Linked DNA regions of Homo sapiens. The protein of the gene in region 3 purifies or fractionates together with the protein of the main gene of each other region. This does not show direct contact. Each region holds a gene or a part of one and is shown on either strand. Other genes may lie near its edges.

What was found.
Region 1: the proteins of TNXB (region 3) and HELZ purify together in Homo sapiens (affinity purification with mass spectrometry; one large-scale study listed by BioGRID and IntAct). This does not show direct contact.
Region 2: the proteins of TNXB (region 3) and PAK6 purify together in Homo sapiens (affinity purification with mass spectrometry, with the first as the bait; one large-scale study listed by BioGRID). This does not show direct contact.

What each region holds. Positions count from the first base shown.
Region 1 is NC_000017.11:67,069,889-67,074,290, reverse strand, and holds the end of HELZ (probable helicase with zinc finger domain), read left to right. Parts: 3' UTR 1-3,847; downstream 3,848-4,402. UniProt on the Homo sapiens protein: May act as a helicase that plays a role in RNA metabolism in multiple tissues and organs within the developing embryo.
Region 2 is NC_000015.10:40,242,030-40,245,678, forward strand, and holds part of PAK6 (serine/threonine-protein kinase PAK 6), read left to right. Parts: intron 1-3,649. UniProt on the Homo sapiens protein: Serine/threonine protein kinase that plays a role in the regulation of gene transcription. The kinase activity is induced by various effectors including AR or MAP2K6/MAPKK6.
Region 3 is NC_000006.12:32,040,653-32,043,487, reverse strand, and holds the end of TNXB (tenascin-X isoform 3 precursor), read left to right. Parts: coding exon 1-51; intron 52-169; coding exon 170-313; intron 314-406; coding exon 407-537; intron 538-656; coding exon 657-789; intron 790-881; coding exon 882-1,033; intron 1,034-1,125; coding exon 1,126-1,222; intron 1,223-1,314; coding exon 1,315-1,476; intron 1,477-1,553; coding exon 1,554-1,717; intron 1,718-1,843; exon of another isoform or gene 1,844-2,037; coding exon 2,038-2,139; 3' UTR 2,140-2,335; downstream 2,336-2,835. Other genes in the region: CYP21A2 (steroid 21-hydroxylase), read right to left, coding at 2,354-2,619, 2,717-2,820. UniProt on the Homo sapiens protein: Appears to mediate interactions between cells and the extracellular matrix. Substrate-adhesion molecule that appears to inhibit cell migration. Accelerates collagen fibril formation. May play a role in supporting the growth of epithelial tumors.

The DNA.
Region 1 (4,402 bases), on a different chromosome or scaffold from region 3:
TCAAATGTCATGTAAGCTAGCCATTGTGTTTTTTTTTTTCCCTCCAGCTCCTCAATGGTAGTAATTTGTCTTTTATGATTTACCGTACATTATTTCTTGCTCACCATCCCCTTAACATATGAAAATCCTTAATTTCTACTGCCGCGCTATATGTCTTCCTGAATCTCAAGGTATAAATGTCTTAATGGATCTGATTTGTCTCCACTCTTTGCCATCTGATCCACATTCAAACCGCCTAGAAATTAGAAAGAATAGGTAATGTTCTATCTACGATTTCTTGTTCAAAATATCACGTAGTGGTGCCAATCACTTACAAAGACACCATCTCCATCTTGAAAGAGTAACTGGCATGTTAGTCTTGAAAATGCTCATTATGATATGCTCCTCACATTTCCCATCTGCTTGAGGATGGACATTTATTAGCTGAGACTTTAAAGCTGCTAAATTCACACTTTCTACTTTCATACCTTTTTAATCAGTAATGTCAAGACCATTGTTGCAAGGAGTGAATCTTACTAAACACATCCTGTTATTACTTTAAACTAGAATATGAGATTCAAGAGATTTAAAAACAATTTTAATGTAACGTTTAAAATTTTTGAACCAATTGAGAATGTCTACTTTGGAGTGAAGTTTAAGGAAACAGTCACCAGAGTTTCTAAAAATTTTTTGGAGGGAGGTACCTAATAGAAGAATCTAGACTTAGAAATGTGAACTGTGGTTAAATACCAAACCCAGTTCCGCAGTGGTCGTCTAAAGCGTCTAAAACTGGAGTGTTAAGAAAACCCAGAGACATTCATATAGTTTCAGTTATCAGAGTATTAGACCAGACTTTATTTGCAATTTGTTCAACAGAGAGATTTTATTTTGATACAGATATTAAGCATAAAGCATAGTAAGTTTTATATAATTCTATGAGTTCATTAAACAATATTATGAAATTTTCATTATGTTCGTGGGGAGTCTTTTTAACTGTTTCTACCTCATATATGAGGTCTCTTCTGTATTTTACTTTGCATACTAGCATGTGATTGCCTGCCTTAGAACTATGTAGAGGAGGGGAAATCGATATTACCTTTTAAGAAATTTTTGATTTTATGAAGTGTTTTCATTAATACTTTTTTAATGTTTGAGAAGTAAAGGGGAAAGGGTGGCAAATTACATAGGTTGCAACACAGAGTAGAAGTCACATAGTACTATTTACAGATCTGTCCTGTTTTAAGATTTGAGAATTGTGAACAGGATGGAGCAATGGTTCTCAAACTTCAGCCAGTATCAGAATTGCCTCGAGGTCTTGTTAAAATTCAGATAGCTGGACCCACCCCCAGCATTTCTGATTTTGGTCTGGAGCCTGATGATTTGCATTTCCAACAAGTTTCCAGGCGATGCTGATGCTGCCAGTCCAGGAACCACACTTTGAAAATCACTGGGTCTGATTCTCGCAGTTTGAAAGTCTCAGAGACCTTCAGAGTCTGAACGTCTTTTCAACCATGTATTTATTTACTCAGTGTAAAAAACTGATCTCTGGAGACATTTTTATAAATCTGGTGCCATGACTGGAACATTTGTGGAGAAAGGTCTCCATGGAGCGACAGGCCCTTTGGATTGGCCACCACCCCTCCTCACTCTCACCCCTGCTGGGGTCTGCACTGCTCTTCCGCAGTAGGGTGAAGGAGCTCTTTGGTTTTAGGGTGAGTTTGCTTTTGTGTACGCTGCTGCCTGGACATCAGTCTGGAAGCTGTGCATTTGTTTGGTGTGCTTAGGGTCAATCTTGATCCACATGCATGGAAGTGAGAATCCTGGAAAGAAGCCATCAGAATGCCATGAGAGTGCACCTAGCATGTATCGAGGCACTAAGTGCAGGAGTCCCTGTCCTAAGATGGCAGTGACATGGAGCATCGAAAACCACAGATAATCCTTAAATAATAAAATAATAGTTTTGTTTTTTTTTCTTCGGGGCAGAGTCTCGCTCTGTTGCCCTGGCTGGAGTACAGTGGCATGATCTCGGCTCACTGCAACCTCCGCCTCCCGGCTTCAAGTGATTCTCCTGCCTCAGCCTCCCAAGTAGTTGGGACTACAGGCATGCGCCACCACGCCCAGCTAATTTTTGTATTTTTTAGTAGAGACGGGGTTTCACCGTGTTGGCCAGGATGGTCTCCATCTCTTGACCTCATGATCTGCCCGCCTCGGGCTCCCAAAGTGTTGGGATTACAGGCATGAGCCACTGCGCCTGGCAAATGTTTTAGTTTTTATGGTTATTATTATTTTTTTTTTTTGTGGGGGAGGGTGGTGAGGGCAAAGGATTTGTTTTTCAAATTATGTGTTTCTCAGGTTAACAAAGTTATTTTAGATTCTCTGCCATGCCAGCAGGTGTTAGAGAGAGCCTGAAGTGTTACATATGGCAGAAAATAAATGTCTCTGATTACTTTGCTACCTTTAAAAAAATCTATATGTGTTTGCAAAACAGCCTAGGGGGATCTACCACCTACACAGCATGAATTATTCATAAGTCATAGGTGCACATGTATGAGCAAGTTATTTTTGAGAAAGAAACTGCCTATAATATAATAAACCTGTCAGGTCTTTGGGTATTGTTTAATTTGTGTGTTGTTGCTGTTTTATCTGGACTGCATCTTGGGGGGTACTGGGCTCTGCTTCTGGTTTTTAGTTTGCCTTTGAATTTACTGAGCTACTAGAAAGACAAAAAAAAGCTATTTTTATGGTAATAGAATACAGAATGACTTAGGTGTAAAAGTACACGTGAAGACCATCGTAGAATATACAGCTTTGGAGTTTTCTTAAGACACAGTCCTTCCTACTGAAAAGGCTTGCTCACCTTTGGAGAGGATTGTTTATATTTTCAGCCTGGGTTCCTTTATGCAGTCCCAACTTAGAGGGGAGCTTCGGTTTATTTACACTTTGCTTTGCACGATAACTTGTATGCGAAGACCTCTTTATATCTTTCAGTAGGTCAGAGGGCTCTTTGTCCTGGTTGAAGTCCCAAAGTGTCAGTGCAGCTGAGAATGTTTCTCAGCCTCCCCCTTTACAGAGGAAGGGTCCTGGATTTTCATAAATCCAGACCATGCCTGCTTCCTATAAATCCATGTATATGACATTGTACTGTATCTGATTTCTGTGCCAGTCATCTGACCTGATTCTTTAAACCCCATAAAGGTACTGGCTATATGTAGTAGTTGTATCCTAGGTAAATATGGTGATTAAAATACTTCTCTTCTAAATTATAAAGATAATGAGTTTTGCATTTTATTAAAGGGTCCTGTTATTAGTGACACAGGATTTTTTTTTAATGCTTCATACATATAGTTCTTATCTAAACTTGTTCAGCTAACTTCATAGATCAGTTACTTAGCAAATTCATACTGAGTCTTATTTTGGGAAGTCTTCCTGAGGGAAGCTGTACAAAACTGAGGTGGTCAGGTTCATCTCTTCAAAGTACCAGTTATACAGCCATCTAAATAGGCATAACTTATGGCAAAATTATAACAATTTTTTTTCTTTGCAGTAAATGATACCTCATCTAAGAGGCTCTAATACCTAAAGAGTTTATCCTTAAAAGTAAAAGTGACTTTGTACCATAAAATAACCCCAAAGCCACTCTCTAGGGTTTTTATTTTCTTCTTTCTTTGTCTTTATCTTTTCTAACTTAGTTTTGGAATTACGTTAGCTACTTTGGTTCCATAGAACAAGTTTTCAACTTGGGGTCTACAGTTCCTACAGTGTGCTCATTGTCTCAGTGAAGTTCTTTTGTTTTCAAAGATTCATGGTAACAAAATGTATTTTACTGCTACAACTAAAATGTATTTATAATAAAATGCCTTTTTAATAATTTGGAGATGTGTTTATTATGTGTGAACTATAATTCTCTGCTTCCTTCTGCCCTTAAGGTCAAAGGTCTGACTGAAGTTAAGCACAGCCCTTTGATTTTATTCCTAATAGTAAATGGTAAAACGAATGTAACTGAGAACTCAGTGTGAATTTGTAAAGTTCTAACTCTACTTTCCAGACATTTGTGACTTGGCTTAAATCCCCTAACTTCAGCAGTAATGCTTTTAAGACTTAAACGTGTTACCTGAAAGTTTAAAGATCTCCAGTGGTCAGTGAGAAAATAAGCCCTTTTCAAACAGTCATTCAACAAATATCTTACAAATTTAAGAAAATTATCCTGAATTACTCTTAACAAGTCACTTAGTTGTTAATGCGGCCCAGAATTTATTTGAGAACTCATAAACCTAGTTTGTAGTGATATATTATGTAGGTATAATCATGCACTTCACAGTAATGCGTGCCAAACATTAATTCAACAATCCAAAAAAAAAAAAAAATGCTGGTTGTGCAGAAAATTGCCCTGAGTCAAGGTCTTGTTTTTCTTGGGGAAATAATT
Region 2 (3,649 bases), on a different chromosome or scaffold from region 3:
TGGGGTCAGAGGGGCGGAGGCTGTCGAGCACTAGGTAGACAGCAGGCCAGCAGCGGGCAGCAGGTTGGGCCAGGAGGGAGCAGAGAGTAGGGGCCAGGGCAGGCTGAGCAGGAAAGGAAAAGGCTGCCTGGGGTCCTGAGGGCTCAGGGAGGACTCCAGACAGCTGGCCTTCTTATGCCAGCCCGCTTCTGTGGGAGAGGCCCTCTGCGTAGGTGACTGGGCAGGGAAGAGGCTAAGACACTGAAAGATTGAATTCCTCACCCAAATGGCCCAGAGATGCCCACCGCACACAGTGTCCTGGGTGCAGAAGGCAGGAAGGACTCATGGGAGGCTGTCCTGTGGACTGAAGCAGAAAGTCCTTCCCGTAAGATGCGCTCGTCGCCCTGAGCAGGAAGGCCCAGGCTGCGGAAGCAGTGCCTGAGACCTGAGCAGCAGGAAGGACACCAGTAAAGCTCATCAGGAGGCATCTGGCCGCCTGCACCTACCGGGCCTCAAGGAGAGAGCTTATTTCTGGGAGCCTCCTTGGTAGAAAGAGGTGGACTAGCCAGCAGGTTGGGGAGGAGCATTGCAAATGGAAGCTTCTGAGGGCAGAATGAGTTCTGAACTTGCTGAAGCCAAGGCTGGCCCTCCTGCCCAGGGCGAGCAGTCTGCCTGGGCCTGGGAAGTTGTCCCCTTCTGAGGAGGTGCCCTCCACCCCACCAGAGCTCAGCCCTAGGGGCCAGGAAGGGCTAAAGCGAGAAGAGTGAGATGTGAGATAAAGGGGACCGTGTCTCTTCCTGGGAGGGTGTGGGGTCCAGGCAGCACCTTGTTCTGGCGCACAGGCTGCCAAGCAGATGACAGCCATGGCCTGACTACTAGGTGCAAGCACTGGTGGCAGGAAGAGGGGGTGGACAAAGCAGGACAGAGCTCTTGCCCTGGGGATGCTCATAGCCCTGCAGCAGAGCAGTGGAAAGGAAAGCTGAGCTGAGCGTGGGGCCAACCGCGCCAGAAACAAGCGGAGCCACAAAGCCACCATCAGCCCCCAGGTGGCTTCGTCCTTTTGCCAACTCTGGGTCCAACTCATCGCTGAAGTTGGCAGCCATGACCCATCCAGCCCAGATAATTTATAAATTTACACCAATACTGGGCAACGGTTCTTAACATAGAACTTTATAAAGATGGACAAAAAAGATAAGTTGAGAATGACAAACAAAGGAAGAAGCAGCTTCTATCTGCAGTTGCAGGAGGAGGTGAAGGCTCGGGGAGATAGACCAGGGCGGGAAGAGGCAGGATGGTGGTTGGTTAACATGAAGTCAGCAGCATGAGCCTCAGGCCCGGTGCTGCCTCTTCCTGGTGACTCGGGCAAGTTACTTCATGTCTCTGGGTCTCAATTTCCTCTCCTGTCCAACAGAGATAATTATAGTACCTATGAGTTAGGGTTGTTGAGAGGATTAAATAAGATAATAAGTGAATGCTCTGAATGGCATGACTGGCACATACGTACATGTTCAGCAAGAGATAACTATTATCACCGTGATGATAACTGGTGTCAGAGGAACAAAGTGCCAGGAGAGACCATACCTTGTTCGGGGGAATCAGGAAAGGCTTCACGGAGGAGGTGACTTTGAAAGAACCCTCCTCTGAGGAGAAACAAAAGCTCTCAGAATGCCCAGGAAAGCTGGGAAGAAACAATAATGCCAGGTCTATTTTTTTCCCAAATAGCATATTGTTTGTCCACTGAGGCTTTCTAAGGAATAACTTGAGACTCCTCTTTCTGGGGTCTAGACTTGGAGGTCTTGAGGACTTGAAGTGGGCTGCCCCTAGTGAAGGGATCGAGAGCCGGGCTGTGGCCCTGGCCCTACTCCTTTTGGGGACTGGAAGCTTTTTTCACATGCTGGTCCTAACTGCATGAGGAACTGTGTTCTGCTGAGCCCCATCTAAAGCATACACTTGGTGATGTGGCAGGCAGAGGGGCCAGACAAGGCCACGGCAGGCTCCTGGATCACTCTGGCAAGTAGCTTAGAAATGCCTAGTAATCGTGGGCAAGGTGCAGTGGCTCACGCCTGTAATCCCAGCACTTTGGGAGGCTGAGGTAGGCAGATCACAAGATCAAGAGATCCAGACCATCCTGGCCAACATGGTGAACCCCGTCTCTACTAAAAAATACAAAAAATTAGCTGGACGTGGTGGCGCGTGCCTGTAGTCCCAGCTACCCGGGAGGCTGAGGCAGGGGAATCGCTTGAACCCAGGAGGCGGAGGTTGTAGTGAGCTGGGATCGTGCCACTGCACTCCAGCCTGGCCACAGAGCAAGACTCTGTCTCAAAAAAAAAAAAAAAAGGCCAGTAATCGTGAGGTTCCATCTCAGAGACTTTTGTTTTCTCTTTTTTTCTTTTTATTTTTTTTTTTGAGACAGAGTTTCGCTCTTGTTGCCCAGGCTGGAGTGCAGTGGCACGATCTTGGCTCTCTGCAACCTCCGCCTCCCTGGTTCAAGCGATTCTCCTGCCTCAGCCTCCCAAGTAGGTGGGATTACAAGCACCCACCACCATGCCCGGCTGATTTTTGTATTTTTAGTAGAGATGGGGTTTCACTATGTTGGCCAGGCTAGTCTCGAACTCCTGACCTCAGGTGATCCGCCGACCTCAGCCTCCCAAAGTGCTGGGATTACAGATGTGAGCCACCACACCCAGCCTGCTTTTTCTACAAAGGATTATCTGTTCTATGAATTTAGGAAAGGTAATCCTAAAGCTTATTCACCTAAGAAAAACAAGGCAACCCCAGAGCATGACAGGCTTTCTTGGGCTGGGGGAACTCACATGTGAAAAAACAGGTTCCCTCATAACTACATGAGAGGCCGCAACTGCCTCAGCCCCAGCAAAGGGACACCTCTGCTGGCCAGCATTTCCTACAAAACCTCATCACGACACATCAGGCAGGGCAGAGACCCAAGTATTCACATAGGGCCAGTGATGACTTTTTTTGACACCTGTGGATTCTCCGTGGCAACCTATTCCCCAAAAGTGCTGCCTCGGTCAGCCAATCCCAGTGTCTCTCTGCCTAGGCAACAATCTCTTGTGCTCTGGTCTGCCCACAGCCTCCATGCACTCAGCTCTTTGGGCCTCTTGCTAAGGGGCTGGAAGCAGAGCTGTGTCCTTCAGGCTGTCAAGGACCTGGTGAGGGATCCTCTGGGTGTCCAGGGAAGCAGGTTCAGAAAGCTCAGTTCAGCTGGTGCTGTATTTTGATCTCTGATCCCAGTGCAGCGGGGACCAGCCTACTCAACTCAGTGCAGATAGCAACAAACCAGTCACCTTGCCCAAGACCTCCTGCTGCCTGCCTGCCTGCCTGGTGACCAGGACTCCTAAAGGCTGCAGCAGCAGCAGCAGAGTTAAAACTTTAAAACCGGGAGGACTGGTTCTGTGGCTCAGCTTCCTGGCCTGGAGAGGCTCTAGCCTCCATTTTCTTTCTTTCAGCTTATGGAATTGTGCAAGAAAGCACAGAGGGTGGAGGGAGCGAGGGGACCAGTTATGCCACAGCCTCCTGCACCACCAGAGCACAGTCTCAGATCAGCAAAGAGGAGCTCTGAGGAGGAAAAGGCTGCCCCAGGAAAGAGCTGGCCATCTCAGATTGCTGTAGCACATTCAAGCCAAAGGGAGTCCCCGGAGGATGTTTCGTC
Region 3 (2,835 bases):
CCCCCCAGAATCCTGTGGACACCTATGACGTCCAGGTCACAGCCCCTGGGGGTGAGCAGGCCTGAGGCCTCTGGAGGGGACTTGTTCAGGGTGGGGATTGCAGGGGGGAGGCTGGACTCTGGCCGAGGATGGAGGGGGCAGGCCTTGATGCCCCTCTCTACACTCCCAGCCCCGCCTCTGCAGGCGGAGACCCCAGGCAGCGCGGTGGACTACCCCCTGCATGACCTTGTCCTCCACACCAACTACACCGCCACAGTGCGTGGCCTGCGGGGCCCCAACCTCACTTCCCCAGCCAGCATCACCTTCACCACAGGTAGGGTCTGTGGGGTGTGTGGGACAGGGAGAGGAGGTAGAGGGAGCCAGGTTGGGCCTCATCCCCATCTCCTCTTCCTGCTTTCCCTCCTAGGGCTAGAGGCCCCTCGGGACTTGGAGGCCAAGGAAGTGACCCCCCGCACCGCCCTGCTCACTTGGACTGAGCCCCCAGTCCGGCCCGCAGGCTACCTGCTCAGCTTCCACACCCCTGGTGGACAGAACCAGGTGCCCCGGCCCCACTGACCCAACTCCCCTCCCTGGGTGATTCCAGGAGGTGCTGCCTCTGGCCCTCCCGGAGGGTCTCCACCTCCCTCTCCCCTGACCCCCCCTTGTCTGTCCCACAGGAGATCCTGCTCCCAGGAGGGATCACATCTCACCAGCTCCTTGGCCTCTTTCCCTCCACCTCCTACAATGCACGGCTCCAGGCCATGTGGGGCCAGAGCCTCCTGCCGCCCGTGTCCACCTCTTTCACCACGGGTACCTGGACGCACGGGCCCGGGGCCGGGGGCTGGGTGGGCAGCCAGGGCCTAAGGCTTGGAAAAGGACTGGCCCCTGCTCTCCTCTCCCAGGTGGGCTGCGGATCCCCTTCCCCAGGGACTGCGGGGAGGAGATGCAGAACGGAGCCGGTGCCTCCAGGACCAGCACCATCTTCCTCAACGGCAACCGCGAGCGGCCCCTGAACGTGTTTTGCGACATGGAGACTGATGGGGGCGGCTGGCTGGTGGGTGGCATTGGGAAGCCCAGGGGTCTGTGCAGGGCAGGGTCTGTTGCCCCGGGAGCCAGAGGCTGATGGTGCCCCCACTTGCTTCCCAGGTGTTCCAGCGCCGCATGGATGGACAGACAGACTTCTGGAGGGACTGGGAGGACTATGCCCATGGTTTTGGGAACATCTCTGGAGAGTTCTGGCTGGGTCAGTGCCTCACAGGGACTGGGGAACTACGGATGGGGATGGGGGCCCTGTGGACACCAGGACCCTGATGAGGGCACGTATCCCACCCCCAGGCAATGAGGCCCTGCACAGCCTGACACAGGCAGGTGACTACTCCATGCGCGTGGACCTGCGGGCTGGGGACGAGGCTGTGTTCGCCCAGTACGACTCCTTCCACGTAGACTCGGCTGCGGAGTACTACCGCCTCCACTTGGAGGGCTACCACGGCACCGCAGGTAAGCAGAGGCTGTGAGGCTGGGAGGGTGAGGCTGGGAGGGGAGGCCCTCATGGCTCCTTCCTCCACCCTGCCCAGGGGACTCCATGAGCTACCACAGCGGCAGTGTCTTCTCTGCCCGTGATCGGGACCCCAACAGCTTGCTCATCTCCTGCGCTGTCTCCTACCGAGGGGCCTGGTGGTACAGGAACTGCCACTACGCCAACCTCAACGGGCTCTACGGGAGCACAGTGGACCATCAGGTGAGGGGTGGGGAGGCGGCTCAGAGCTGGGGTGGCTGGGGCTCGGCCTGCCTAGGTTTCAGCCCCACAGTGTAACAGGCAAGGGACTGAGTGGCTGGGTGAAATGGAACAATCATGCCAGCCTCGCAGAGGGAGCTGGAGTTGATTTATTGGCTGGAAAGGGCCAGCTCAGAATTAAGCCTCAATCCTCTGCAGCGGAGGGTCAGGAAGGGAGCTCTGCGGGGAGGTTGGTTGAGTGCTGGGAGCTACCTCCTTAAGGGGAACGGGAAGAGCAGATGGGACATCCGGCTTTGACTCTCTCTTGACAACCCCTTTCCCAGGGAGTGAGCTGGTACCACTGGAAGGGCTTCGAGTTCTCGGTGCCCTTCACGGAAATGAAGCTGAGACCAAGAAACTTTCGCTCCCCAGCGGGGGGAGGCTGAGCTGCTGCCCACCTCTCTCGCACCCCAGTATGACTGCCGAGCACTGAGGGGTCGCCCCGAGAGAAGAGCCAGGGTCCTTCACCACCCAGCCGCTGGAGGAAGCCTTCTCTGCCAGCGATCTCGCAGCACTGTGTTTACAGGGGGGAGGGGAGGGGTTCGTACGGGAGCAATAAAGGAGAAACTGAGGTACCCGGCTGGCATCGGTCCTGCCCCATCACTGGCTCTGGCCCGGGCTGTGGGCCCCCATCCCCCGGGGCTGCAGCCGCACTTGGAAAGGCTGCATCTTGAGGATGACACTGCAGTGGGGCAGGGGCTGCAGGGAGGGCAGGGCGTCCCCGGAGGGCAGCAGCGTGAAGGCCTGCAGCAGTCGGGTCAGCACCACGAAGAGCTCCAGGCGCGCCAGCGGCTCGCCCAGGCACACGCGGGCACCGCAGCCGAAGGCCAGAGCTCTGGAGTTCTTGCCTGGCTCCAGGAAGCGATCTGCGGGCGGGTGGACAGGTGGGTGGGGAGGCGTTCAGCGGCAGCGGGGACCAGCCTCCACCACATTTTCACGGCAGGCCCCCGGCCCCCCACATACCAGGCCAGAACTCATGTGGCCTCTCCCAGACCGTCTCATCCAGGTGGGCGCCTTGGAGGTTCGGAATGATGACTGTGCCCTCAGGGATGTCGTAGCCGGAGATGCTGAAGGGGGCTGGA